Linked DNA regions of Homo sapiens. The protein of the gene in region 1 purifies or fractionates together with the protein of each later gene. This does not show direct contact. Each region holds a gene or a part of one and is shown in the gene's direction. Other genes may lie near its edges.

Region 1 (3,656 bases):
TTGTCCTTTCAGCTCATCACCCTGAGAACAAACCCAGATGCAGCAACGCAGAACAGGCGATTCCAGTTCACTCAGAATCAGAAGAAAGAAGATTCTAAAACGTCCACCTCGGTCACCAGTGTGAACCAAGCCAGCACATCCCGCCTGGAGGGCCTACAGTCAGAAAACCATCGCCTGCGAATGAAGATCACAGAGGTACCTCCCTCTGCATCTGGTAGCTGGGCCCTGTCTGCCACTGAAGCCCCTCTAACCCTGTGCGGGGACTCTCAGGCTCCTCTAGACCATCCCTGCAGCATGACCGTGCAGTCTCATCAGCTGCAGTTGCAGCTGCGAGAGCCAGGGGTGACATAAACCACACAGAGGCATTTGTCAGAATCCAACATGAGCTTATTGCCCACCTCACCCAGGCTCTTGGAGGCCAGCAACACCTGATTCAAGCCATCCCCAGACAGAAAGGAACTCAGGGAGATTTGTGAGCTTCTGGATTATCATAGCTTCCTACGTCAGTGTCTCTTTATCTGTGTCTCTCTCCCTCTCAGTTTTTCACTCTCCCAGCACAACCCAGCAACCACCACATCTATGTGATGTACAAGAGAAGAGAAAGTGAAAAGAAACTTTTCAAGAGAGAGTGCTGCAGCAGACCTCGCCTTTGTCCTGAGGGTTCTCAACTGGTTCTTGAATATTCCAGAGAGACCATAGCCAGATTGCCTTGTGCCCAAGCCAGGCTTGGCTTGTAGACCAGGGAAGGGAAAACAAATTACCTCCCCTCCTCTACCCCTCCCTTTGGGTTGGAGGTATGCCTGAACCCGTGCTCTGCAGGCTGTGTGTTGCTTTAATAGAGGAATTCTGATTAGGGAGGGGGACAGGAAAGGGACCAAGGAAAGTACATTGGTTACAATGCTGGCTAAACAAGGCCCCAAAATAAAGTGGCCCAGAGAAAATATGTTTATTTCCCTTTTACCTAATGGCCGTGAAAAGAGAGGGCCCGGTTGGGGCAGCTCTGCTCCCCAAGGTCATTGCTGGGCTTGGTTCCTGCCCTCTGGTTTTCCCCACTCTCCAGGGTGTTCTCTTCATTCATAGCGGGAGAGCTGGGTGGACAGCATGTCCTGTTCACAGTGTCAGGAGGGGAAGAGATAGAAAGTCCACATGAGGGATTGCCTTTTAAGCAGTAACACCAAAAATTGTGCATATTTTGGTTCTGCCCTAGTCACATCAACAAAAACTGACATGAGCACACCTAGTGAGAGGAGAGGCTGGGAAACGTCGTCTCTAGCTGGACAGCTGCAAGGAAGAAGTGAGACATAGGGTTGCCAGATTAGATATGGGATGCCCAGTTAAATTCAGACTTCAGATCAACAACCAATCATATTTTCAGTAAAAGTTTAGCCCAAGTAATACTTGAATATACTTATACTAAAAAAGAACCCATTATCTGAAACTCAAATTTGACTGGACATTCTGGATTTTTATTTGCTAGATCTGGCCGCCCTTTGGGGGGCTCACAGAATTCTGCCACAGAGAGCCACCATACAGTTGTCTGTGCACCTAAAGATGACTGCTTTAGGATGAGGTAACCCACCATCAGCTGCCAGAGCAAACTAAGAAGGGTTTCTGTCCCCCAAAGCCCATTACAGGCTCTGTTTCAATATCAGACCTCTCCTGATGAGTACGACCATGTCACTGCATTTCACTTCTACTTGCACACTTCAGCAATGAAGAGTTCAGTCACATTAGGAAACCCAGGCCACTATTTAAAACTCTTAAATGTTGTGTTATTTTTCCCGGAAATGAATCACAATCTGGCCTCCTGTTGTCCCCACCCTTTGATCCTACTCCTGCCATTTAAGTCACATAGAAAAGAGTATCTCTTTCCCTCCTCCTCCACATGAAAACGTGTTAAACAATTTCATGGCTGTGTTCCTGACATCAGAACAGCCTCTGATAGTTTATCAGGTCTCCTCCCTTATACTACAGCAGGATGCTGTTTGGAAAAATCCTCTAACCATGTTTTTCCTGTGCTCTTGCACCAACACAACAGTCAACGCAGAAGACTTCTGTGACCAAATGTGTGTGGGGTTTTCCCCACCAACGAGCAGCAGGCACCCGCTGGGTGCCTCCAGTTCAAATCCAATGCTACATATCTAGAGATAGCTTCAGATCCCACAGGTTGAGGGCTCAGTCCCCAAGGCTCCCCCTGACCCCCACCCTACCCTCAGATACCAGTCATAAGTCAGGCCTCTGGAACTTCTGACCAGCCAGCTTCAAGTTGGGACTCCCAGGATCCTGCTTTGGGTTGAATTAATTTGCTAGAGGGGCTCACGGAACCCAGGGAAACACATTTACCAGCTTATTACCAAGGACATGAATGAAGAGATGCACAGAGCGAGGACGGGTGAAGGGGTGTGGAGCTTCCCTGCCTCCCTGGGCCCCATGCTCCAGGAACCTTCACGTGTTCAGCTACCCAGAAGATCTTCATACCCTGTTCTTTTGAGTTTTTATGGAGGCTTCATTACACGAGGCATGACTGACAACTGTGTAGAAATGTGATTGGACAAAAATGCATGATCTAAACCCAGCAAGGCCTTTCTGCTCAGAATTTTCTTGGCCTCTCTGTAGCATTCCTTCCTCCAGGGTATGGGGCAAGACTTTCTCTCTGTGATAAAGGTCTTTTGACCTACATCAGATTACAGTCCTGCCTTGAGCAGGTGAGAAAGGACAGGAGAAGGTCAGAGAGAGTGATTCTGTTTCATGAGGCCCGCTCCTGAGGCCTAAAATGCCCCAACATTATAACAAAAGACTCTTACAAGAGATATAGCAGCCAGGAATCATGGATGAAAGCCATTCTATTATACAGATATGGTAATATCACAGATGTTCAACACCCATCCCGACTACCACCCCCAACAACTACCAACACTCATATTGCCCAGGCTTCTCTGGGGCTGAATTGCCCCCAGGACTTGCACCTGATTTTTGTATAACCTGGGAATGGGCCAGGTGCTGTGGCTCACACCTGTAATCCCAACGCTTTGGGAGGACAAAGTGGGAGGATCGCTCGAGCCCAGGAGTTCAAGACCGGCCTGGGCAACATAGAGAAGACTTGTCTCTAAAAATAAAAACGTGGGGATGACTGGGACCCATCCTGATTAACTCCTCTGAGTGAGACCCTGCAGGTCAGAGTCTCCATGATAGTGTGAGGCTCAGAGCTCGCGAGCCCTGCATGTCTGTCCTCCACTGTGGGTCCTATTAAGTATCAGTAATAGTAATTATAAGGCCAGGCACAGTAGTTCATGCCTGTAAACCCAGCACTTTGGGAGGCCAAAGTGGGAGGATTGCTTGAGCTCAGGAGTTCAAGACCAGCCTGAGGAACATAGAGAGACCCCATCTCTACCAAAAAAAAAAAAAATTAGCCAGACATGGTAGCATGCACGTGTAGTCCCAGCTACTCAGGAGGGTGAGACAGGAGGATTGCTTGAGCCTAGGAGATCAAGGTTGCAGTAAGCTATAATTGCACCACTGCACTCTAATCTGGGTGACAGAGTGAGACCCTGTAATAATAGTAATATTATTATAGTAGCAAGTTGCCCTTATTATGTTTCAGACACTGGGCTAAACTTTCCATGTATTATCTTGTTTGATCTGCACAACCTCCCCCT
Region 2 (3,656 bases), on another chromosome or scaffold:
TCAGCTGACCTTGAGATAGGAAGAGCGTCCCAAATTATCCAGGTGGGTCCAGTGGAATCCCAAGGGCCCTTAAATGTGGACGAAGCAGAAGAGTCAGTGTGAGAGCAATACAGTATGAGAAAAACACCACTGGCCTGTACTGCCTTTGCGTAGGGAAGTGGACATGAGCTGAGGAAGGCAGGCTGCTTCTAGAAGCTGGCAAATGCCAGAAAACCGATTCTCCCCTAAAACATCCAGAAAGGAATGCAGCCCTGCCAACATCTTGATTTTAGCCCAGTGACACCCTTGTAGGACTTTGGACCTCCAGATCTGTAAGATAATACATTTGTGTTGTTTTAAGCCATGAAGTTTATAGTAATTTGTTTCAGCAGCAACAGAAAACAAATACATTTGTATTGTTATCTCCTTCCCTGAGTTTTGGCAGCCAGAGCCTGTCTCAGAGATCTATTCCTGTTCTCACTGTGGTCCTCTTCCCTTCACCTAGCTCACTCCTTCCCCTCTAATATTCTATTCCTCTACATCTGCTTGGGAAAGTATAAACCTCATATTCTAAGTCTTTGCTGGCTTTGGTTATAGAAAATACACAGCCGTGTTGTCTCATTCTATTATCTGTCAGTAGCAGAAACCTGAAATTGGTAGCTTCAACAAACTAGTGTTTGCTTTTCTCTTGAATAAAGGAAGTCAGGAGGTAAATATATGATCACCTTTTAATTACTTTTTAAAATATTTCTTAGGTTTTGTTAACAATGGGAAACTGCTTACATTTCTTTTGAAAATTAAAATGAATTATAAAGTTAAAAAGATTTTCACTCAAATGAAAGTGTCCTAGAAGATTTTAAGAATTTAGGTTGGAAATTTAGAGGTGACGATCAGCATATAACATCAATACCCTGAAAGTCCCTATGATCGTCACACGTTGTCTAATTGCATTAATTTTGATTTTGGGGAAGTTGGGGCTACCCTACCTCTGTCTCCAAAAGGCACATTTCAAGGCAATGTTGTCTGTCGTTTTGCTCTGGCTGAAATCACATAGCTACGGGCTGGTTCTGCCCAGCCAGAGCTTCCCTTTGCTCATCTGCTGCATTTGAAATAATTATTGCTACAAGAATAATGGAACATCAATAAGGGGTGCTAATCACCGGAGGAGGTGGCCCTCATTTGTCTGAGCCTGAGTGGTCATTTTAGGAGTCCACTGGAGACAAGAATACTCCCAAAGGTGGGTGGAATTAGGGTAGGTGGGAGGAAGTTGCCACAGTGAGATCACAGCCTCTGGGAGATGCTGGTTTTCCTGGCCCAGATCATGGAAAAAAAACATCAAGACTTGGATGACAACTTTGAGTGACTTTGCTATTATGCAAGGAGTGAGGCAGGGGTCAGGGAAACAACAAGCACAGGGTAGAACCTGTCACAGGAATAAAGGTGCATTCCAAGGATCCAAAGAAGAACCTTAGCCTTGAGAGGAAAAGCTCAGCAAGTGGTATGAGAAATGGAGAACTGCTAGGTGAAGGCCAACAGGGCAGGAAGCCGGGCAGAGCCAGCATGAAGGTGCCTCTGGGAACTGGAGGGACAACTGTGACTCTAGCACCGAGTGGGGCTAGGGGAACCTTCTCCTCTGTTGGGAATAACCACCACATTCATCCCCTCCCCTGACCCCTGGACAAGAGTGGAGGACACTTGGAGTGGAGACAAGCAGGGGTACCTGTTTAAATCAACAGCTGAGGCCAGATGCAGAGGCTCATGCCTGCAATCCCAGCACTTTGGGAGGCTGAGGTGGGAGGATCACTTGAGCCCTAAGAGTTGAAGACCAGCCTGGGCAACATGGCAAAACCCCATCTCTACAAACAATAAAAAAAAAAAACAGCTGGACATGGTGGCATGCGCCTGTAGTGGCAGATAACTCAGGAGGCTGAGGTGGGGGGATCTGCTTGAGCCCAGGAGGTGAAGGCTGCATTGAGCTGTGATTGCACCACTGCACTCCAGCCTGGGTGACAGAGCAAGACCCTGCCAAAAAAAAAAAAAAAGAAGAAGAAAAACAATTTTATTGGTAGAGGCGGGGGGAATAATAGAGATACAGCACCAGCTCCCTGCCTCTAAAATGTGGGCACCTGGGTAACTAGATAGCGCAGGAAGTTAGAACAAATAAAAGCAGCAAACTCTGTGACTGAAGTTTCAGCACATGGATGGCAAATATTTTCAAGTTTGGTGAAAATAGGTAAGAGATCAAAGCCCAAGAATAAACCCTGGGGTCATTACAGGATTTCCTGTAAAGGCATCAGGAAATGTTTTTGGAAGAATGTGATTGTCTTCGTTGATATCAACCCAAAGATGTGGTTATTGTTCAGAATGTCCTGATTTTCTTTAAATGTTTTGTTTCTATCTGACCTCTCATTATAAATGAGAAACTTATAAATTATAAATATACACTCATTATAAATGAAGATTGCTTGGTAATGGACTAATGGATAATTGTTTCTGCTTCTTTAGGATGTTCTAAATTTTTCCCAAGTTTTGTACATTAAGCACAAAATTATAACAGGAAAATAAAGAAAAGAATTTAAAATAAACATGCAACCAAATTTTAAACAGATAAGTATATCATATTAGATAGGAATCACCATACTGGGTCAGTCACCCCTCCTCCAAATTTTTCTTTATTCTTTTTTTTTTATTATACTTTAAGTTTTAGGGTACATGTGCACAACGTGCAGGTTTGTTACATATGTATACATGTGCCATGTTGGTGTGCTGTACCCATTAACTCGTCATTTACCATTAGGTATATCTCCTAATGCTATCCCTCCCCCCTCCCCCCACCCCACAATAGGCCCTGGTGTGTGATGTTCCCCTTCCTGTGTCCATGTGATCTCATTGTTCGATTCCCACCTATGAGTGAGAATACGTGGTGTTTGGTTTTTTGTCCTTGTATTAGTTTGCTGAGAATGATGGTTTCCAGCTTCATCCATGTCCCTACAAAGGACACGAACTCCTCATTTTTTATGGCTGCATAGTATTCCATGGTGTATATGTGCCACATTTTCTTAATCCAGTCTATCGTTGTTGGACATTTGGGTTGGTTCCAAGTCTTTGCTATTGTGAATAGTGCCACAATAAACATATGTGTGCATGTGTCTTTATAGCAGCATGATTTCTAATCCTTTGGGTATATACCCAGTAATGGGATGGCTGGGTCAAATGGTATTTCTAGTTCTAGATCCCTGAGGAATCGCCACACTGACTTCCACAATGGTTGAACTAGTTTACAGTCCCACCAACAGTGTAAAAGTGTTCCTATTTCTCCACATCCTCTCCAGCACCTGTTGTTTCCTGACTTTTTAATGATCGCCATTCTAACTGGTGTGAGATGGTATCTCATTGTGGTTTTGATTTGCATTTCTCTGATGGCCAGTGATGATGAGCATTATAAATGAAGATTGCTTGGTAGTGGACTAATGGATAATTGTTTCTGCTTCTTTAGGATTTTCTAAATTTTTCCCAAGTTTTGTATATTAAGCACAAAATTATAACAGGAAAATAAAGAAAAGAATTTAAAATAAACATGCAACCAAATTTTAAACAGATAAGCATATCATATTAGATAGGAATCACCATATTGGGTCAGTCACCCCTCCTACAAATTTTTCCAGAGCTCTAATTAG

Evidence for each region. Proteins that work in one complex are often made in the same cells at the same time.
Region 2: the proteins of GABBR2 (region 1) and CASR purify together in Homo sapiens (affinity purification with western blotting; one study listed by BioGRID). This does not show direct contact.

What each region holds. Positions count from the first base shown.
Region 1 is NC_000009.12:98,299,780-98,303,435, reverse strand, and holds part of GABBR2 (gamma-aminobutyric acid type B receptor subunit 2 precursor), read left to right. Parts: intron 1-12; coding exon 13-195; intron 196-3,656. UniProt on the Homo sapiens protein: Component of a heterodimeric G-protein coupled receptor for GABA, formed by GABBR1 and GABBR2. Within the heterodimeric GABA receptor, only GABBR1 seems to bind agonists, while GABBR2 mediates coupling to G proteins.
Region 2 is NC_000003.12:122,288,075-122,291,730, forward strand, and holds the end of CASR (extracellular calcium-sensing receptor isoform 2 precursor), read left to right. Parts: 3' UTR 1-3,555; downstream 3,556-3,656. UniProt on the Homo sapiens protein: G-protein-coupled receptor that senses changes in the extracellular concentration of calcium ions and plays a key role in maintaining calcium homeostasis.